Homo sapiens: one gene and its partners. The protein of the gene in region 5 interacts with the protein of the main gene of each other region in a pairwise test. Each region holds a gene or a part of one and is shown on either strand. Other genes may lie near its edges. The genes, in order: MARCHF2, ADGRG7, PTTG1IP, LAPTM5, LDLRAD1 and SLC41A2.

The links.
Region 1: the proteins of LDLRAD1 (region 5) and MARCHF2 interact in binary tests that used the Homo sapiens proteins (3 or more experiments, as listed by UniProt).
Region 2: the proteins of LDLRAD1 (region 5) and ADGRG7 interact in binary tests that used the Homo sapiens proteins (3 or more experiments, as listed by UniProt).
Region 3: the proteins of LDLRAD1 (region 5) and PTTG1IP interact in binary tests that used the Homo sapiens proteins (3 or more experiments, as listed by UniProt).
Region 4: the proteins of LDLRAD1 (region 5) and LAPTM5 interact in binary tests that used the Homo sapiens proteins (3 or more experiments, as listed by UniProt).
Region 6: the proteins of LDLRAD1 (region 5) and SLC41A2 interact in binary tests that used the Homo sapiens proteins (3 or more experiments, as listed by UniProt).

The regions. Positions count from the first base shown.
Region 1 is NC_000019.10:8,423,305-8,426,804, forward strand, and holds part of MARCHF2 (E3 ubiquitin-protein ligase MARCHF2), read left to right. Parts: intron 1-3,304; coding exon 3,305-3,500. UniProt on the Homo sapiens protein: E3 ubiquitin-protein ligase that may mediate ubiquitination of TFRC and CD86, and promote their subsequent endocytosis and sorting to lysosomes via multivesicular bodies.
Region 2 is NC_000003.12:100,616,101-100,619,600, reverse strand, and holds part of ADGRG7 (adhesion G-protein coupled receptor G7 isoform 1 precursor), read right to left. Parts: intron 1-3,500. UniProt on the Homo sapiens protein: Orphan receptor.
Region 3 is NC_000021.9:44,860,191-44,863,690, reverse strand, and holds part of PTTG1IP (pituitary tumor-transforming gene 1 protein-interacting protein isoform 1 precursor), read left to right. Parts: intron 1-2,419; coding exon 2,420-2,528; intron 2,529-3,500. UniProt on the Homo sapiens protein: May facilitate PTTG1 nuclear translocation.
Region 4 is NC_000001.11:30,737,275-30,740,774, forward strand, and holds part of LAPTM5 (lysosomal-associated transmembrane protein 5), read right to left. Parts: intron 2,664-3,500; coding exon 2,535-2,663; intron 1,959-2,534; exon of another isoform or gene 1,882-1,958; intron 1,789-1,881; coding exon 1,666-1,788; intron 426-1,665; coding exon 330-425; intron 1-329. UniProt on the Homo sapiens protein: May have a special functional role during embryogenesis and in adult hematopoietic cells.
Region 5 is NC_000001.11:54,015,387-54,019,669, forward strand, and holds the start of LDLRAD1 (low-density lipoprotein receptor class A domain-containing protein 1), read right to left. Parts: upstream 2,801-4,283; 5' UTR 2,791-2,800; coding exon of another isoform or gene 2,727-2,790; coding exon 2,706-2,726; intron 2,042-2,705; coding exon 1,990-2,041; intron 1-1,989.
Region 6 is NC_000012.12:104,885,291-104,888,790, reverse strand, and holds part of SLC41A2 (solute carrier family 41 member 2), read left to right. Parts: intron 1-2,351; coding exon 2,352-2,498; intron 2,499-3,500. UniProt on the Homo sapiens protein: Acts as a plasma-membrane magnesium transporter. Can also mediate the transport of other divalent metal cations in an order of Ba(2+) > Ni(2+) > Co(2+) > Fe(2+) > Mn(2+).

The DNA of each region.
Region 1 (3,500 bases), on a different chromosome or scaffold from region 5:
CCACCTCGGCCTCCCAAAGTGTTGGGATTACAGGCATGAACCACTGTGCCTGGCCTCTTCTCTGAATTTGCTCTCCCAAACTTTTTCACAGTTTCCCAGAACAAGCTCCAAACTGACATGATTCTTCCTCAAGATTCTCGTCACTTCTGTTTCCCTGGGTTGGTTTCCGGACAAAGGGTTCCTTTTTTGTTAACTTTGTTTGTGTGTGTACTTGGGGGAGGGTGGGATCGGGGTATGGGTTCAGAAAGGAGGCAGGCAGGCATGCCCTTTTGCCATTGCAGGAGGAAATAGCAGTCCAGGGACAGGACTGTTGAGAAAGCAGCCATGAGCAGCCTGTTGGGCTCTTTTTAAAGCCGCCCAACTCCACCCCGCAGCATGAGAATCTGAGAAAAGGATAGAAAACAGTCATTTCCAGGCAGGCGTGGTCGCTCATGCCTGTAGTCCCAGCACTTTGGAAGTCCAAGGCTGAAGGATCGCTTGAGCCCAGAAGCTCAAGACCAGCCTGGTCAACATAGTGAGACCCCCCTCTCTAGAAAAAGTTAAAAAATATTAGCTGTGTGGCGTGGTGCCACCTGTAGTCCCAGCTACTCGGGAGACTGAGGCAGGAGGATCGCTCGAGCTAGGGAGTCCGAGGCTGCAGTGAGCTGTGATTGCACCACTGCACTCCAGCCTGGGTGACTCAAAAAAAAAAAAAAAAAAGAAAGAAAAAAAAATACAGTCTCTCTGAGAGGAAATTGGCGTTGTCTGGAAAATAGCTCTTCTTTGTGTGACCTCACAGTCTGCCTTCTGGCCAGAAATGTTTGGGAAACAGTGACTCATGGCTGTTTGGCCTCTGGGCCACGCCCCCTGCCTCCTGAGCTGCCCTGGGAAGGACCCGGCATCCCCAGAGACTGGGCCAGGGCTGGAGACTTTTCCGAGGCAGCTTTCTGCAGATGCTTTTTATTTCTATTTCCCCCTCACAAGGGCAGAGGAGCAGGTGAGCACTTCTCTCTGGATGCACAGGTTTCTCAGGTAGCACGGGCTTCAGGTGTGATTAGATCCAGGGGCCCGCAAAGATGTCCTTAAGAATCTACCTTTCCCAGGCCTTGCGCAGTGGCTCACGCCTGTAATCCCAGCACTTTGGGAGGCCGAGGCGGGTGGATCACGAGGTCAGGAGATCGAGACCATCCTGGCTAACACGGTGAAACCCCGTCTCTACAAAAAATACAAAAAATTAGCCGGGCGTGGTGGCCGGCGCCTGTAGTCCTAGCTACTCTGGAGGCTGAGGCAGGAGAATGGCATGAACCTGGGAGGTCGAGCTTGCAGTGAGCCGAGATCGCGCCACTGCACTCCAGCCTGGGTGACAGAGCAACACTGTCTCAAAAAAAAGAAAAAAAAAAATCTACCTTTCCCTGTCTCTTGGCTCTGCTCTCCTCTGTGCTGGCATCATTCACAGGCTCCACACAGACTAGGCAGCTGCAGGAGCTCCAGGCTTCTGTCAGCCTTGTGGCCGACAGTTCTGGAGTTTACGGGGAAACAAAGAATTTTAGGAATAGATTATCGGTGACTCTGATGGTATCATACAAGCCTGAGTTGGTTGCATGAGCAGGGGTGCGTGCTGTTCTATTTTCTTTTTCTTTTTTTCAAATGGTCTCACTCTGTTGTCCAAGCTGGAGTATAGTGGTACAATTATGGGTCATTGGAGCTTTGAACTCCTGGGCACATGTGATCCTCCTGCCTCAGCCTCCCAAGTAGCTGGGACCACAACATGTACCACCACGCCAAGATAAGTCTTTAAAAAAAATTTTGGGACCGGGCGTGGTGGCTCACGCCTGTAATCCCAGCACTTTGGGAGGCTGAGGCGGGCAGATCACGAGGTCAGGAGATTGAGACCATCCTGGCTAACACGGTGAAACCCCGTCTCTACTAAAATACAGAAAAAAAAAAAATTAGCTGGGCATGGTGGCATGTGCCTGTAGTCTCAGCTACTCGGGAGGCTGAGGCTACTCGGGAGGCTGAGGCAGGATAATCGCTTGAACCTGGGAGGTGGAGGTTGCAGTGAGCTGATATCACACCACTGCACTCCAGCCTGATGACAGAGCGAGACTCCATCTCAAAAAAAAAAAAAGAAAATTTTTTTTTTATAGAGATGAGATCTCACTAGGTTGCCCACACTGGCCTTGAACTCCTCGGCTCAAGTGATCCTCCCGCTTCAGCCTTCCAAAGTGCTAGAATTACAAGCATGAGCTACTGCTCCCGGCCTGGTGTTCTGACTGGTCCAGTATGAGGCCTGAGGTCATGAGGAGTGTTGTCTGCTCTGCCCTAGTCCTTGAGGATTTTTTTTTTTTTTTGAGACGGAGCCTCACTCTGTCACCCAGGCTGGAGTGCAGTGGTGTAATCTCGGCTCACTGTAACCTCTGCCTTCCAGGCTGAAGTGATACTCCTGCCTCAGCCTCCCCAGTAGCTGGGATTACAGGCACCTACCACCACGCCCAGCTAATTTTTGTATTTTTAGTAGAGACGGGGTTTCACCATGTTGGCCAGGCTGGTCTTGAAATCCTGACCTCATGATCCTCCTGCCTTGGCCTCCCAAAGTACTGGGATTACAGGAATGAGCCACCTCACCCAGCTGGTCTTTGAGGATTAAGAGTCGAGGATTGGGGGCCGGGTGCGGTGGCTCACGCCTGTAATCCCAGCACTTTGGGAGCCTGAGGCAGGCGGATCACAATATCAGGAGATCGAGACCATCCTGGCTAACACGGTGAAACCCCGTCTCTACTAAAAATACAAAAACACAATTAGCCGGGCGTGGTGGCAGGTGCCTGTAGTTCCAGCTACTCGGGAGGCTGAGGTGGGAGAATGGCGTGAACCCGGGAGGCGGAGCTTGCAGTGAGCCGAGATCGCACCACTGCACTCCAGCCTGGGTGACAGAGCGAGACTCTGTCTCAAAAAAAAAAAAAAAAAAAAAAAGAGTTGAGGGTGGGGAAGTTGTGCAGGACAATCAGGGTGGGTATTTTAGGGAAATTTGGAGAGGACATGGGGGCGGGTATAACAGATGCCCATCTTGGGTCTGAGAGGGTGCTGCAGGGTCCCTGGGAAGGGAACACATCACTCCACCTGTGGGAGTCTGGGAAGGCTTCGCAAGGTTACCTTCCCTGCATCTCCTTCCCAAAGGGAAGGACATTTAGAGCTGGGCATTGAAGGATGAGTAGGAGTTCACTAAGTGGCAGCATGGGGTAAGGGTGAGCTTGTGATCCAGTGGGTAGTGAAGCAGGTATAGACAGAAAGCCCAATCATTGCTCATGGGTCCTATCTCTGTGTCCAGTGATGGTCCTTTCTGCCGGATCTGCCATGAGGGAGCGAACGGGGAGTGCTTGCTGTCCCCGTGTGGCTGCACCGGCACGCTGGGTGCCGTGCATAAGAGCTGTCTGGAGAAGTGGCTTTCCTCATCTAACACCAGCTACTGCGAGCTGTGCCACACGGAGTTTGCAGTGGAGAAACGGCCTCGACCCCTCACAGAG
Region 2 (3,500 bases), on a different chromosome or scaffold from region 5:
TTTGAAGGGTTTTTTGTGTCTTTATTTCCTTCAGTTCTGCTCTGATCTTAGTTATTTCTCGCCTTCTGCTAGCTTTTGAATGTGTTTGCTCTTGCTTCTCTAGTTCTTTTAATTGTGATGTTAGGGTGTCAATTTTAGATCTTTCCTGCTTTCTCTTGTGGGCATTTAGTGCTATAAATTTCCCTCTACACACTGCTTTGAATGTGTCCCAGAGATTCTGGTGTGTTGTGTCTTTGTTCTTGTTGGTTTCAAAGAACATCTTTATTTCTGCCTTCATTTCATTATTTACCCAGTATTCATTCAGGAGCAGGTTGTTCAGTTTCCATGTAGTTGAGCGGTTTTGAGTGAGTTTCTTAATCCTGAGTTCTAGCTTGATTGCACTGTGGTCTGAGACACAGTTTGTTATGATTTCTGTTCTTTTACATTTGCTGAGGAGTGCTTTACTATGACATGATTGTATATCTAGAAAACCCCATAGTCTCGGCCCAAAATCTCCTTAGCTGACAGGCAACTTCACCAAAGTCTCATGATACAAAATCAATGTGCAAAAATCACAAGCATTCTTATACACCAATAGTAGACAAACAGAGAGCCAAATCATGAGTGAACTCCCATTCACAATTGCTTTAAAAAGAATAAAATACCTAGGAATCCAACTTACAAAGGACGTGAAGGACCTCTTCAAGGAGAACTACAAACCACTACTCAGTGAAATAAAAGAGGATACAAACAAATGGAAGAACATTCCATGCTCATGGGTAGGAAGAATCAATATTGTGAAAATGGCCATACTGCCCAAGGTAATTTATAGATCAATGCCATCACCATCAAGCTACCAATGACTTTCTTCATAGAATTGGAAAAAACTACTTTAAAGTTCATACGGAACCAAAAAAAGAGCCCGCATCGCCAAGTCAATCCTAAGCCAAAAGAACAAAGCTGGAGGCATCACGCTACCTGACTTCAAACTATACTACAAGGCTACAGTAACCAAAACAGCATGGTACTGGTACCAAAACAGAGATATAGAACAATGGAACAGAAAAGAGCCCTCAGAAATGATGCCTCATATCTACAACCATCTGATCTTTGACAAATCTGACAAAAACAAGAAATGGGAAAATGATTCCCTATTTAATAAATGGTGCTGGGAAAACTGGCTAGCCGAATGTAGAAAGCTGAAACTAGATCCCTTGCTTATACCTTATACAAAAATTAATTCAAGATGGATTAAATACTTAAATGTTAGACCTAAAACCATAAAAACCCTAGAAGAAAACCTAGGCAATACCATTCAGGACATAGGCATGGGCAAGGACTTCATGTCGAAAACACCAAAAGCAATGGCAGCAAAAGCCAAAATTGACAAATGGGATCTAATTAAACTAAAGAGCTTCTGCACAGCAAAAGAAACTACCATCAGAGTGAACAGGCAACCTACAGAATGGGAGAAAATTTTTGCAATCTACTCATCTGACAAAGGGCTAAAATCCAGAATCTACAATGAACTCAAACAAATTTACAAGAAAAAAACAAACAACCCCATCAAAAAGCGAGCGAAGGATATGAACAGACACTTCTCGACAGAAGACATTTATGCAGCCAATAGACACATGAAAAAATGCTCATCATCACTGGTCATCAGAGAAATGCAAATCAAAACCACAATGAGATACCATTCTCACACCAGTTACAATGGCGATCATGAAAAAGTCAGGAAACAACAGGTGCTGGAGAGGATGTGGAGAAATAGGAACACTTTTACACTGTTGGTGGAACTGTAAACTAGTTCAACCATTGTGGAAGTCAGTGTGGCGATTCCTCAGGGATCTAGAACTAGAAATACCATTTGACCCAGCCATCCCATTACTGGGTATATACCCAAAGGATTATAAATCATACTGCTATAAAGACACATGCACACATATGTTTATTGCGGCACTATTCACAATAGCAAAGACTTGGAACCAACCCAAATGTCCAACAATGATAGACATTGTGTATGTGGCACATATACACCATGGAATACTATGCAGCCATAAAAAATGATGAGTTCATGTCCTTTGTAGGGACATGGATGAAGCTGGAAACCATCATACTCAGCAAACTATCGCAAGGACAAAAAACCAAGCACCGCATGTTCTCACTCATAGGTGGGAATTGAACAATGAGAACCCATGGACACAGGAAGGGGAACATCACACACCAGGGCCTGTTGTGGGGTGGGGGGAGGGGAAGGGATAGCATTAGGAGATATACCTAATGTTAAGTGACGAGTTAATGGGTGCAGCACACCAACATGGCACATGTATGCATATGTAACTAATCTGCATGTTGTGCACATGTACCCTAAAACTTAAAGTACAATAAAAAAGAAAAAGAAAAAAAGAAAATATTATTTTCCAATTTTTATTTATTTTGGGGGACTCTTTTTTCTATAAACATCTTTTAAATTTTCTTTATCTGATGTTCTGCAATTTTACCATGATGTGGTTTGTTTTTGCTTTGCCTACTTGAAAAGTCATCCTTCAATCAAGAAAACTTTTTAGTTATTACTTCTTTAAGAGTTGCTTCTCCCATATTTTCTATTCTCTTCTGAAATGTCTCATAGACCCTGTTGGACTTTAGCCTTCTATACATCAAATTTTTTAATCTCATTATTGTTAACATCTCTTTATATTACTGTGTTGAATTACAGTTTCCTAGCTTTCTTTTCCATTCCCTAGTTTTCTCTGTAATTATTAGGGTGTGGAGGGGGGACTTTATTTGTTTGTTTTGTAGAGACAGGATCTCCCTCTGTCACCCAGGTTGGAGTGCAGAGGTGTAATCATAGCTCACTGTAGCCTCCATCTCCTGGGCTCAAGGGATCCTTCTGCCACAGTCTCCCCAGTAGCTGAGACTACAGGCAGGCGCCACTACGCCTGGTTATTTTTGAAATAATATTTTGTGTTTTGCAGAGATGAGGTCTTGCTACGTTGCCAAGGCTGCTCTCAAACTCTTGGCTTCAAGTGACACTCCAGCCTGAGCTCCCAAATGCTGGGAATACAGGCATGAATCACCATGCTCAGCACCTTAATGATTTCTAACCTCCTTTTAAATCACTCATTAATTTTTTTATCATTACTATATTTTCTATTTTAAAAGTATTATTTGGTTCTTTTTCAAATTCTCCTATTCTTTTTAAAATACTGTATTTTTCTTTTTTTATTTTTCTCCTGTATTTTAAAGGCTTAATCTTGTTAAACATATTTTATATTCTCTTTCAGATGGTTTTGTTATATCCAATTCTGGGAGGGTTAATCCTTTTGATGACATCTGATGTCTCTCCAGCATCATGGTTCGCATGTAATTTTGTATTGTAAACTCATCTTTGTCTTATTTATTATTCTTCCATGAGACTTTTATGGGTTTTGTTTGTGGAAATATTTCCACAGGAAAATTTCATGATTACTTCTTTTACGATCCTGGGGCACCATCAGTAGTAGTCTTGAACTAGTATT
Region 3 (3,500 bases), on a different chromosome or scaffold from region 5:
TTCTATTGGAAGTCATTTCAGCTTTAAACATAGCTCACTATTGTATGTGGCTTTGTAGCCTAGAGTGCGTTTTTGCCATAGTACCCTGTGTAACCCTCACCACCCTGGGCAGGGTGTGGTGATGACAGCCATCTCGTGGATGAGGCGGCTGAGGGACTTGCCCAGGTCATTGTGGATGGGGCCAGTCCAGAAGGGCTGAAGGCCTGACTCCAGTTCTGAACCCAGACAGGGCGGTGAAGAGGGCCGCTTGCCCTACAGTAGCTCCAGGCGTGTGTGGGTGTGCTCTTGGGCACACAGGAGGTTTCTGGAAGGAGGTGTCAGTGCCTGGGAGGTCTCAAGAGGACCTGCGTGTTGGAGCAGTGGCTATGGTGGGCTGTGTCCACGCTCCTGAGGCCGTGGCGGGCTGTGTGTCTCTGTGTTGCCGAGGCCGTGGCGGGCTGTGTCTCTGCTGCTGAGGCCGTGGTGGGCTGTGTCTCTGCTGCTGAGGCCGTGGTGGGCTGTGTCTCTGCTGCTGAGGCCGTGGTGGGCTGTGTCTCTGCTGCTGAGGCCGTGGTGGGCTGTGTCTCTGTGCTGCTGAGGCCGTGGCGGGCTGTGTGTCTCTGTGTTGCCGAGGCCGTGGCGGGCTGTGTGTCTGTGCTGCTGCCTGAGCTGCTTGCTATGTGCATATTACTTCATCGATCAGAAAAGCAGCACAACCACCAGAGAACACCGTATCCTCCCAGTGCAGTCCTGTGGCTCATGGTACCACTGTCATGGAAAAATGGAAAATCAGACATTTACAACTTGAGCCACTTGAAAAGGGAGGATTAGCCAAAAATCGTTAATTGCAAGCAAAACCCCTGAAATGGAAGATACTCCCAAATGACCAGAATAAACAGGGTTTAACTGTTAATTGTTACATTATGCTGGAAACCACTTAAACACGACACTAAGGTGGTCACTGTATAAGTAGCCCTGGGAAAGAAGGCCCAGGGGACATTGTAATTAATATTTTTTTGTAATAGACTTTTGCCCTAACCTGGGCCAAAAACGCCATGACTTTCTATCCTATTAAAAAGTCAGTAACACTGTTAATGTGGAGATTGGGAGTAACAGGCAGTCTGGACTTGGGTCTGGACTTGGGCTGGCGCATGAGGTGCTGCCGAACGGCAGTTCTTTTTTTTTTCCTTTTGAGACGGAGTTTCACTCTTGTTGCCCAGGCTGGAGTGCAATGGTGCGATCTCGGCTCACCGCAACCTGCGCCTCCTGGGCTCAAGCGATTCTCCTGCCTCAGCCTCTGGAGTAGCTGGGATTACAGGCATGTGCCACCACGCCCGGCTTATTTTGTATTTTTAACAAAGATGGGGTTTCTCCATGTTGGTCAGGCTGATCCCGAACTTCTGACCTCAGGTGATCCGCCCTCCTGGCCTCCCAAAGTGCTGGGATTACAGGCGTGAGCCACCGTGCCTGACCCGAACAGCAGTTCTTTCACCCCTTCCTGTGCCATCTGCCTGCGTGCTAGGCTGTCCCCTGTCACGCTCAGTGCCTGGCTCACAGACCGCTTTCGGGCCTCGTTGTGTACTGCTGTGGCATGGGCTGGGCCCAGCTCTGGGCTCTTACACACACACACACGGGTGTGATGGTGTTGTCTCCACACCACTGCGGCCTCACACCTGACGTTCAAGGGGCTCAGACAAGAGCGTCTATGAGGTTCTCTCCAGCTGTCAGTTTAGGGCGGGCTGAGCCGTAGTTGCATCATCTTTCAAGCTGTGCGACTTAGTGCAGTTGTGAAGGTCAGAGGTAGGAAGCATGGTCCTTGCTACAGATGGTGACCATGCTCACCCAAGTCCATTCAACACAAACTCAGTGAGTGCCTGTGATGGGCCAGGCTGTGTCCTGTGTTCTTGGGAGACTTCAGCCAGTGAAGTGCACAGGTGCCCGGCGTGTGGGGAGGAGAGGTCTACGGAAGCAAACCTCACAGGAGGTGAGGAGGAGGGGGTGGAGGCGGCTGGTTGTGTCCAGTCTGTTGATCGAGGCAGGGCCCATCCAGTCAGTGGGGAGCCACACAGATGTGGGGAGAGTGCTCCAGGCAGAACCGGCAGGCTGAGCTGAGGCTGAGAGCATGAGGTGGGGTTGGCAGCACTCAGGAGGCTGCCAACACAGAGGCCCCGTGGCCTCAGCAGGGTGAGTTGTGGAAGAGGCCTGAGTGACGCGGGCCTTGGATGAGTCCGTGGAGAGCTGACAGGGCTGCTGGCCGCTGTGCTGGGTGTGGACCGAAGGGCGCTGAGGGTGAAGGCAGAGATGAGGCGTTGAGGGGGAGGTTGAGCCTTTACAGCCATCCACAGAGCGATGGCAGCACTGGCGGGCTGTGGGCAGAGCCTGGACAGTTCTTTGGTTTTTCTGTTGTTTCTAATGCTTGCTTAATGTTGGTCTCTTTCAGTGTCTTTGGTGCAACACTAACAAGGCTTGTCTGGACTACCCAGTTACAAGCGTCTTGCCACCGGCTTCCCTTTGTAAATTGAGCTCTGCACGCTGGGGAGTTTGTTGGGGTAAGTCATTGTTTTCATTTGCTGCTTGCAAAATCGATGCTTCTTTGAAAATAGTAGTATGGGCCGGGCGCGGTGGCTCACGTCTGTAATCCCAGCACTTTGGGAGGCGGAGGCGGGTGGATCAAGAGGTCAGGAGATTGAGACCATCCTGGCTAACATGGTGAAGCCCCGTCTCTATTAAAAATACAAAAATTAGGTGGGCGTGGTGGCATGCACTTGTAATCCCAGCTACTTGGGAGGCTGAGACAGGAGAATTGCTTGAACCCGGGAGGCGGAGTTTGCAGTGAGCCGAGATCGTGCCACTGCACTCCAGCCTGGCGACAGAGCGAGACTGTCTCAAAAAAAAAAGAAAATAGTATTATGTGCTCAGTTAGCAGAAGTTGCTAGAAAATGTGCTGCCAGTAGCTCTGTGACTCCCAGGGAGAGGTTGGGAAGCCAGGGGTGATCTGCTGACCGGGAAAGCAGCCCTGGGGAACCTGGAGGACCTCCTTCAAGGTGGTCAGCCCCAGCACTGAGCTCTATCTCACCACGTTACAGAAGGTGTGGGGAAAAGGGTGAGTTTGAAGGCAACGTGTTTGACTTCTCTGCTCAGTATGTTTTGTTCATGTGTCACCCCTGAAACTCACCTGTGAATTCCCCTAGAATCTCCAGTTTTCCCAGCTTAAGAATCCCTGCTTGCGTAGACAGCCCTCTTTTTTTGTGTGCGTATCTTTGTATATTTGATTTTGGAGGCGTTTTTAAATTAAGGAAATCAGCTCTTGTGAGATTCAAGTTGTTTTCTAGTTTGCCTTTATTTATTTATTTATTTATTTTTGAGACGGGCTGGAGTGCAATGGCACTATCTTGGCTCACTGCAAGCTCCGCCTCCCAGGTTCACGCCATTCTCCTGCCTCAGCCTCCTGAGTAGCTGGGACTACAGGTGCCCGCCACCACGTCCGGCTAATTTCTTGTATTTTTTAGTAGAGACGGGGT
Region 4 (3,500 bases), about 23 Mb from region 5:
AGTGACTTGCTGAAGACCAACCACGCAGCTAGTGACAGTGGGGCTTGGATTCAAACGCAGGCCAGTCCAAATCTAATTCCAGACAGCTGGAATTAGACATCTGAACGCAGGTGGCCTTTACGGATTCACATGCCCTAAATGGGCTGTCTCGGAGGATCCCAAGTAAAGTCAGAGGAGCTGGCATGGGAAAGCAAGAGAAAGGAGCTAAAAGCAGGAGAGGAGGCATGGAGGACACATGTCCCTGCCTTCTAACAGCTTGGCATGGGCAGGCCTGGGCCCAGCACAGCCTCACCACCCCTCCCAGAGCCGCAGGGCAGGGATCCACTCACCTTGAAGATAAGGACAGTGATGAAGGCGATGGAAAAGATGATCATCATCTTGATGAACTGGTTATGAGGCATATCCTCCTGGCTGGGGAGGTAATTCTGCAACAGATTTGGGGGCCACATCAATGTCTCTGGACATAAGGAATTCCAACAGCACCCACACATCCGGGAATAATGATCCCACCCTCCACACACACACGAGCACAGCGTGGCACAGCCGTCACCTTGGTCGACCGCCACAGCAGCCTTAGGAAGCAGGTGCTACCTTCAGCCCCATCCCACTGACGGGCAAACCAAGAAAAGCCAAGTGGCTACTATCTCCAGATCTGCTTCCCAGGCTGGCGCACCGGCCCATCCCCAGCTGGCAGGTGTCAGCTGCCCATGGGCCACACCTATGCTCTTCTCTACAAGATCATTTTGGCTGACAGGGACCACCTAATCCACTAATACCTGGGAGGTTACATTCCCTCCCCTAGGGGCAGCTTGAAACCAATGACTGATGCAGGGGAACTCGCCCTAGGTGAGACTGCCTCTGTGGTCATTTGCAAATATTACCACACATTCTTTGAGACGCCTCCCTTCTAAAGGTGGTGTTTATTTCCTCTCCCCTTGAGTGTGGGCTGGACTTAGCAACGCACTTCTAACTAACAGAATGTGGCAGAAGTGATAGAAGTCTTAAAAGACACTGCCTTTCCTCCTTGCTTATCTCTTACATCACTCCCGCAGGGGAAGCCAGCAGCCATGTCAGGAGAGCACTCAAGCAGCACTACTACAAGTCCACAGGATGAGGAATTAGGCAAAGAGCCCACGCCCTGTGAGTGAGCCACCAGGAGTTCATCCTTCAGATCTAATCAAGCCCTCAGTTGTCCACAGCCCCAGGTACCATCTCTGGTGCAGCCCCACCAGAGTCCCTGAGTCAGAAGAACCCAGCTAAGCCACTCCCAAGCTCCTGATCCTCAGAAGCTGTGTGAAATAATAAATGTTTATTGCTTTAAGCCATGATGCTTAGAGATAATTCATTAGACAACAATAAAAACTGATATTATGTCTGTGTTGCAATTCACATGCCAAAGCCCTCTCTGGGATCATGCAGGGCTGCTCCTACAGCCACATCTTTGCTTCTTTGCTTGGCTTCCTCCTTTTCTCGAACCTGCCTTCCTCACTCCTGACAAGTTTCTTCCTGAGAGGGCTCCCTCAATAAATCACCAGCACAAGAATCTTCCTCCCAAGCTCCAACTCCAGGGAACCTGGCCTAAACCACAGACACACAGAGACGTGAAGTAACCTGTTCAAGGCCACACAGCCAGCAAATGGGCATGGTTCCCTGCCCCAGACTCACCATGTGGTTCATGGACTTGAAGTTGAGATAGGTGGGCACTTCCATGTAGGAGCTGCAGAGGGTCAGGATGCTCAGGCAGAAGTCCAGCAGCTGCAGCGTCATCAGGGGGAACTTGGAGGAGCTCTGGGGAGGACAAATACAAGGAGGAGGAATGAGGAGCAGCAATTAAAGTCCCAGTTACTGAGCGGCACATAGTAGGCCCTCACTTGAGAGACCGTCTCAGCTACAGACATCAGTGACTCTCGTCCCCTGTGCACAGAGAGACATGAACACACAGATGTTCATACCAAGAGCTGGTGGCAGACCCAAGACTAGAACCAAGGTCTCCAGACTCCCGGGCCAGGGCCCTTCCATGATGTAGCCCCCCGGTCTCTTCAAGGACAACAGTTGGGGAGAGTGAGAAAAGCAGGTTTGGGAGACTGTGTCCTTGACTGGCAGCAGCCCTCAAGCCACCCCACAGTGGGCGCTCACTGGCATGAATCATCCTTCTCTTCCTTTCTTCAACTTGGTTCCAAAGAAGAAATAATACTGGGGGCTGGGGGCTAAAAAGCGCACATGTCCTTTCCTCAGGTGTCAATTCACTCCCAGCAGCACTGACTGAGTGCTGACCATGGGCTGCACCCCCAATGTGTGTGTTCCTCATGTAACCCTCATAAGGCAGGCTGATGAGATGTGATTGCAGGTACATTCCACAGAGGAAGAAACTTGGGGCAATGTGGAGGGACTCAGAGACTGGGTCAAGACACCAGCCAGGAAGAGGGCTCCTACCCTCCCCAGCCTGAGCACAGGGCCCGTGTCTGGTCCCCTCCCATCTCCCATGCCAGACCTGGGCTCTGCTGTCCGGTGAGAGGTGGGGGCTGGGTACTCACAGCACGGCTCCGGGAGGCCAACTTGAGGTAGGCGGGCAGCTCAATGTAGGAGCCCAGCAGGGTGAGCAGGCACAGGAGATAGTCCATGATTTGCAGGGACAGGAAGGGCAGCAGGTACTTCTCCCGGTTCTGAAAGGTAGGCCCAGCACCGTCAAGTGTCCCCTGCATGCAGCCAACACTCCGCCACCCAGCCTGATATCCTCATGCATCCCCTTCCCACCCTCTCCCAAACCTTCCCTGCCCTCCTCAGTTGAGGTCACCTCCCTCTGAGTGACACTCTGGGGACAGGGAGTGGATAAGACCCAGGCCCTGAATGAGAGGAGTCTTGGTGTCCCAGGAGACGTAAGGGAACCATCCCCATCTATCAGGGCTCAAAGAGCAGGATTTGACTCAATTTGCTCACAAGAACCCAGCAAGGAAGGGCTTTGTGCACTTTTTACAGAGGAGAGGGGACCAGAGAGGACTTGCTGGAGGTGGGGACACCAGGGCTAGATCGGGGAAGGAGACTAGGAGTGAACAGGAGGGAGGGGCGGGGCACTGGAGGCAGAAAGACCAACATGAGTGAAGGCCCGGAGGCAGCAGAGAGCCCCTCCCCCCCACCCCCCACTCCCCACCACGCCCCGCATACAATTGGACCTTCCTCCACCAGCCACTCCCAGGGGTCCAAAGTCACAGTAAGAGGCCCTGCCAGGAAGAGGCTGAAGTCCCTCTTCTTCAATTGAAAGCAAGTGACCACCATGACCAGTATTCATTCATATGCTCTCACAGCTGGGGACAAAATCACTGCAACAGTGGTTTCCTGGTGTCTCATGTGGTCGTCTAAAATCACTCAGGAGGCAACCAGAACAATCTTGACTGATCTCAGAGTCTTCAGGGACCACCTGCTCCATTTCTCCATTTCTCTAGCTGAACCCTTTGAGTTTCTGCACAAGCACCCACAGCCACCCTGCACAAGGCAAACGGCCT
Region 5 (4,283 bases):
CTCCCCTGCTTACAAAATAATAAAAGAAGGCTTTACTGAGGACCTCCTGGGTGCCCTGCTGTGCAGCTTGCCCTGGTCCTTGCCCTCTGCAGCTTGTTATTGCACTTAGAAGGCAAGGCATGGACATGCCTGAAGGGGTGTGGGAGCTACTGACGTGCCCAGGCCACAGGTACCTCAGAGAAAGGGGCAGGAGCAGGTGTGATTCATCCCTGTGACCCCAGGGCCCAGCCCAGAGCCAGGCACGTGGTGGGGGCTTTTGTTTTTTTTGTTTTTTTTGTTTTTTTTTTGAGGCGGAGTCTTGCTCTATTGCCCAGGCTGAAGTGCAGTTGCATGATCTCAACTCACTGCAACCTCTGCCTTCTGGGTTCAAGCGATTCTCCTGCCTCAGCCTCCCGAGTAGCTGGGATGACAGGCGCCCGCCACCATGCCTGGCTAATTTTTGTATTTTTAGTAGAGACGGGTTTCACCATGTTGGCCAGGCTGGTCTTGAACTCCTGACCTCAGGTGATCCGCCCACCTTGGCCTCCCGAAGTGCTGGGATTACAGGTGTGAGCCACCACACCGGCCTGGGGCTTTGTGAACACTCTGTGAATATGCCGACCTGGGGGTCCAGGAGGCAAGAGAAGGCCCCCAGTATGGGTCAGTCCAGGTTATTTCCAATCCATTCACATTTCTGATGCAGTGTCCTCAGAAGCAGAATGGGATTTCCACAGGCAGGTAAGGGGAGGGTGCAAAGAGAGGGCATTCCAGGCAGAGGGCGTGGCAGGAGTAAAGGCCCAGTGGTTGCAGGTGGGGGAGCACAAATGGCCTGGGGTGGTGGGACTCCAAGATGGATGTGTATTGGGAGGGGAGACAATAGCAGGAGAGGCAGCATAAATCTAAAACCTGTCATCCCTACAGCCCTAGTTGGTGGCTCCTTGGCCATCAGCAAACAGGGTAAACTCAGGTAACCAGGGAGGCAGCGTGACTCTGGGCAGGGAGAGGTGTCCTGATCAGCCAAGCAGCTCCTCAAATATTTGTGCAGCACAGACCATGCACAAGGTGGGGCCATGGGAGAACCCGCAGAACCAAGGCTCCTGCCCAGGTGAAGCTGTTGCACTTCAAAGCCAGAAAGCCCTTAGGTGCCAGTCCTCTCCCTGTACCGATGAGGAAAAGGAGGTGATTCTTTCCACAACCCCGCCCATCATGAGTCAGGACTTAGAAATAAACAAACACCAGCTCGGAGCAACAAAAGCCCTGGGGCTTTGTAACCAGAGAGACCTCAGTTCACATTTGAACCCTGGCCCTCCAACCTCCCTGCTGTGTGACCTTGGCCTGGTTACTCAACCTCTCTTAGTTTCAGCTGTCTCATCTGTTATTGCCCCATAACAGGGCCCCTGTCTCAGAGCTGTCCTGAGGATTAAAGAGATCATGCAGTGCCAGGCACCTAACTGGGGATGGATTCTTTATAGCTGGTATTTTAATCTACCTCTCTGAGTGTGTTTCGTCATTGATCAAATGTGGGCCAAGCCAGGGCATATGCAAAGCTCAGTACATGTGTGTTTCTTCCTTCTTCTATTTTCAGAAGGGTAAAGAGGACTGTCCTGGTCACACCATGGGCCAGTGGCACATAGTAGGGCTAAATAAATGTGTCACTTTATCCATCAGAGTTAAAGAGAATTGCCCAGGTCACCCACTGAGTCAAGAATTTGACGCTGGTGCTCTTTTCTCTGTGTTACAGGTGGGCACTGTATGCAGTTTGGTGCCTGTGAGGTAGGCAGCACACAGTAGGTGCTTAATGAATGCATGTGCATGGAGAGAATGAATAACCCTATTAAGCAAGTGACTGTCAGCATGGCTGGCCAGGAAGCTGGGAGCAGACAACGTTAACATGGAGGCAGAGGTCTGAGGGACAGTGGGAGCCTTGAACCCTCCTCATGTCTCTATCGCCAACTGCCAGCTTCAAGGGAGCCCCACAGGGCACTGGCCCCAGGCCCTCCAGTTCTTTACCTTCCCCTCCAGGGTGGGCTTTGGATTCAGCAGCAGTGTAGCCATTCTCTCCCTGCCCAAGAGAACAGAGTGAGGGGTGGGCTTAGGTGAGGTGAGCTCCAGCCTCAGGGAGGCAGACAACAGGGTTTTCAGAGGGGTCACTGAGAGAGTCTTAGGTAGAACCACGGGTCCGTCACACCCCAGCATCTCACGCCCCAGATGCATCATGCCCGCTTCATATGTCCACACCTTTGCCTGCACTGTGCCCTCTGCCTGGAAAGCCTTTTTCTCTGCTGTCCACCTGATAAATATTCATCCTTCAAACCGGCTTGGGCAGCGACTCCTGGGTGAGGCTTTCCCTGATACCCTCCTCCCCAGTAAAACTGGCCGCTCTTCCCTCCTGTCCACCTGGCTCCTCTGTTTCCATACCAGCACTTGCCACCTGGACTGTATTGCTGGGTCATTGGTAGGGTCCCCTACACCCTGGGAGTGAGCCCCGGGGCAGGACGGGGGCTGATTTTCCTCCGTGTCTCCCATGTATGCCCACTCTCTACTGCCCACTCCTCATCCCAAGGTTTGCTCTCCCAAGATCAGGAGCCTGGTCAGGGCGGCTCTTACCTGGGGACAGCTCTTACTTGGAGACAACTCTTACCTGGGGACAGCTCTCACCTGGGGACAGCTCTCACTTGGGGACAGCTCTTACTTGGAGACAACTCTCACCTGGGGACAGCTCTCACCTGGGGGAAGACCTTGTTCATGTCTTCGGTTTCCTGCTGCCCGACTGGGGCTGTGTGCAGAGAGCTCAGCACGGGTTCCCTGCATTGTCACCAAGGCCAACCTGGAGGAGGGACAAGCAGGAGGCCTTGCCCGGGCCACACCCTCCCTGTGGGCAGGCCCCTGTCAGCTGCCTTCCAAGCAGAGGCAAAGGCAGGAGGGCCCCTCTCCGGCCAGGCTATTCCCTCATCTGCCATCTGACAGCAACATTGCGAGGCTGGAATCCTCATCCCTATTCCACAGATGAAGAGCCAGAGGTTCAGAGAGGGAGAAACTGCCCCAAGTCTCACAGTGCATGGGAGGAGTGAAACCCAGAAACTTTTCAGAAAGTGCATTTTCCTCCACATCAGAGATGGAACCGGAGGAGCTCAGGTTCCAGGGGTATGAAGATGCAGGCAGAAACTCCCAGAATTGACGTTTCGGTGGCTAGAAAGTAGGGGTCATTTTCTCATTGATGTTCTTCTGTTCAACTACATAGGTGACCTAGATTGAAAGAATATGCATTTTCCACTAAAATTATAAAGCAAATATAATTTTAAATTGTTTCATTTAGAAACGTGGCAATGTGAATTTTTACTGCCCCTGAGGTGGTGCTGAGGTAGGGAAGAGGCGGGGGGCTGGTTGCTTGCGTGAACAACCCCTTCTATGTCCCCAGTGAGTGGGTTTCCCTAGCAGCCTGTCCCACTGCTGAGTAAACCAAGGCCCTGGAATCTTGAGGGACAGGTCCAAGGACCCGGACCAAGGGAGGAGAGGTGTCTACCTCCAGAAATGAGCTCAGGAGTTCTTGCACCTGCCTCTGATGCCCATAGATTTTCCAACCTGCAATCAGCCTTTTCTTTTGCATTGGGAAATAAAATGATGAATCCACGTGGGTGCAAGTAGGAGGCACAGACACAGGGGCAGCCCTTGGGAGGCAGCAAGTAACATTGTGAAGAGCTGAGCCCTAGGCCGGGAGAACAGGACTCTCATTAGGGCCCTACCACTGGCTCTGACGGGTGACTCACTCCCCTTCCCTGCGCCTCAGTTCCTTCATCCAGAAAATAAAGATATAAGCTAGATGAAGGGGGTGTTTTAGTTTAAGGTTCCCCAGAATCAGACTCTAAGACAAGATTTGAGGGCAAGTAGAGTTAATTGGGAGTGATCCCAGGAAATGCTGGTCGGGGGGTGAGGGAAATGAGACATGGAAGAGAAGGATCCGATAACAGTCGTGTTATGAAGCAGGTTTCCGCTGTGGGCAAGTGGAATTTAGCCCTGCTGGGGCACTCGGGGAAGCTAGGGGAGAAGATGCCCCTCAGAGTTATCCCACTCAAGGTGAGGGGAACTGGGGTAATAATCTGCCAGCTCCTGCCAGTCTTGGTTGAGAATGGCCAGAGGAGGCCAGGCATGGTGGCTCATGCCTGTAATCCCAGCACTTTGGGAGGCCGAGGCAGGTGGATCACCTGAGATCAGGAGTTCAAGACCAGCCTGGCCAACATAGTGAAACCCCGTCTTTACTAAAAATACAAAAAATTAGCCGGGCATGGTGGCAGGCGCCTGTCATC
Region 6 (3,500 bases), on a different chromosome or scaffold from region 5:
AAAAGATCAGGAAAATCGCCTAGACATTCATTTGTTTCTGTAAGTTAAATAAATTGGGAAACTCCTTTCTGGACATCATGCAGGGGATTTACTAGCTTGTCACTTGAGTAACAAGTGTTCCAGGAATTCTGGGTTTCAAAAGTCATCCTCTGTTGAAATTTTTTTGTTTCAGATTTCAAGAAAAATTTCTTCCCTGTTTCTGTGGCAATACAAATATAACCTTATACTTAAGATAGCATATTGTTGGCTATAGAATTTAAAGAGCCAGAAGGTTTTAAAAATTAACTACTTTAGAACTTTTATTTGGGTTATTTTTCTTTATATTTATTCGTATGAACTTTACACTAGAGAATTAGCTTATTGTGGAATCACAATCATAAAGACTTTGTTCTTTTTATTTTATAATTGCCATTTTCTTGCCCTTATATCACCAGCAAAGTTTAAAGTGGATTATTGTCATGTTAGGTGATCATACAATGCAGCTAACTTTTTTGGCTAGGTTCTGGGAATTTAGGGAATCTTATTAAAATTATAACTCGATTTCCAAAATATTTTCAAGCATTTTGTTTTAGTAGTTTAATTGTATCGGGGTAGTTTCTTGTCTTCATAAAGAATTACTATAGTTGAATGGAGTTAACATTGACCAAAGCAGAGTGAAGTTAAGCTATTGGAAAATTAAATTGTTGGTACAAAAATAATTATGCCATCAGCATGCTATTTTTTTAGGCTCATTTGCTTCTTTTTTCTTTCTGATTTTATTTCATTTAGAAAGTGTCATTTAAAATTTTTCAGTCTAACAAGTATTTGAAAGCTTTTCAAAACTATCCAAAATTCAGAATTTTAAAAAGTATTTGTTTAAAGCTTCTGACTTTGAATAATGTGTGTTCTAATTTTATGATAACTTGACCTTTATAAGCACTTTAGTATATGTAAAGTAGAAACTCTTAGCCATATTTGTAGGTGAGAAAACTTAGGTAAGGTGACTTGTCCAATCTCATCAACTTGTTACCAGCTGAATCAGAACTAAAACACGTTTCCTAACTCTTAGCTCTTTCCACTGGACTATGATACATACAAAATATTTGTTTTCAGTTGAAAAGATATAGATGGTACTATGTGTAGGAGAACTTCCCATATACATCTTCAAATGTGCTGATTTTGGAAAAAGATTCTAAGCGATTACATCTTGCCTGATTATTGCATAATGTATTTTTTTTAAAAAGTTTTCTGCTATAGCTTTTTTTCTTTTTCAATGATATTATGGGAAAGGTAAGTCTAGTAATTTAAAAAGCCTCCAGAATACTAAAATATAAGGCACTGTTTGATGCAAGACAAAAATTCTGCTTATTAAAATTTTGGCTTTAATAGGTAGAGTAAAAAACACTGGGCTAGAGTCACAAGCTATGTGACTTTAGGCAAGAATTTAAGCCCTACTCTACAGGACCTCAGTTTTATTATCTATAAAGTGAGTATGCTGGAACAAAAACATTTAGAGTCATTTTAACTCTAAAAGTGCTGTGAGATTCTGTTACTGTTTTTCTCCATAGCCATATTTAGGCTTTCATATTGATTTGTGGTTAGCACATTTAAAGTTTTCTCTTTACTACATCCTCTTAATGAGTATCTTGGTGTGACAAAATCTACACAATTTAGAGTGGATATAAATGTTAATAGTTTTATCCCATTTGTATAATTTAAGAAAATTAGGATGTAAAAGTACAAGTACACAGTTAAATTTTCATCTTCTATTCTCTCGTAGGTTTATAGACAGAAACTTCAGGTTTAAAGAATATCTTTTACAAAGACTGTTTCTTGTATTCTGGCCTTCAGTGTTTTAAAATTTAATTATGTCCTGCTGCTTAATACTTCAACGTCTTTAAGTAATAAAATGAAATAAGCATTTCTAGCTGCCATATGTAAACAAATCTGGTTTTGTTGGCCTTCTTCCCAGTTGTTGTACATATACATATGACTCACCTTTTTTTTTGATGTTTTCATACTTTATTTGAGGGTTAAAATTAAAACCTTTGGATTCAATACACACAAATACATTATATCTAAGATATACATGTCACTAAATCTGAAATTTTAGCTTTACCATAATTTTAGTAGCTTTCAGGCCTCTAAATACAATGCTGAACTTCTTAAATTTTCTATGATCCCCACTTGGAGTTTGTTGAAAGGCATTTTGCCAAAGCGTTAGAGTAAATGTTTTGTTTGCTTTAGTCAGCTTATCTAAGCAGTCTAACTGGAATTGATATGCTGTTTTTCTATCCTACACATTTTGGTATTTGGGGGATTGATTTTCTTTAAATCATAGCCTAAAAAGTAATGAACATTCTTTCTTCTAGGAATAATAATGGTTGGGGTTATCGTTGGTTCAAAGAAGACTGGTATAAATCCTGATAATGTTGCTACACCCATTGCTGCTAGTTTTGGCGACCTTATAACTCTTGCCATATTGGCTTGGATAAGTCAGGGCTTATACTCCTGTCTTGGTAAGTTGATTTAAAACTAAATATTGTGTGTTGTCTCAAGTCTCTTTAAATAAATATTGTTGCAGCAATGCCATGAATCCATGGTAGCCTTCATTTGCATTAGAACTGCTGTTGAGACTGATTAGGATAACTATCATTTGTTTTATACCTACTATGTGTTATGATTCCCACTTTCTTTTTTCTCGTAGAGTTTAAAACTCTGTAAAATAAGGATTATCATCTCTAATTTTAGATGAGAAAAGCAAGGATCATAGAAGTTATGTATGTTACCCAAGTTTATATAACTACTAGTAAAAAAGTTGAACACAGGCTTATCATATTTTGTGATTTCTGTCCTTTCCTGTAAGTGTACAGCAGCTAGGAGTCAACCTGCAGTGTTCTCTGTATAGAACCATCTCAGAATATAAGCTTATAAGTGGTACTTAAAATTTACCAATGGAATGTTTTTCCCCATCAGAAACCCACACCAATAAGTAGCTTCATGGCAGTTAACAAAAGGGAAAAAAAAATCACCACAAAAATTAGACTGAATGCTGTATAAAGTTGGAGCCATATATGTAATTCCTGATAAATAGTGATAGAGTATTTATGGAATCTAATGAGTTGTTTTAATGCAAATTTGTGTTCTGGAAATGGTAAATACATATGATTTGTGAGTGTTGATGACATGCTAAAAGTTCATTGTGGTTTTATTATTTTTAGATGCCAAATTAAGGAAAACAGAAACTTACAGTAATACAAGAAAAAAACATGAGTATATAAGCCAAGCCAGAGGCAAACATTTATTCACAAATCCTCACATATGTTCATGGATTCTATACAGATTTATGGTGTACTTTAAAATAAATCTAAAGCATGTTTCGTTTTAAGAAGTAAGGGTCTCAGATATATGTTCTTGAAATAAAGAAAGGGCTTTAACCAACCAAAGGCAATAATTTTCTGTGACTTTTGGAGACATCAAGGAAGCTTCACTTAGCATATAAAATTGCCTTAAGTTATTTA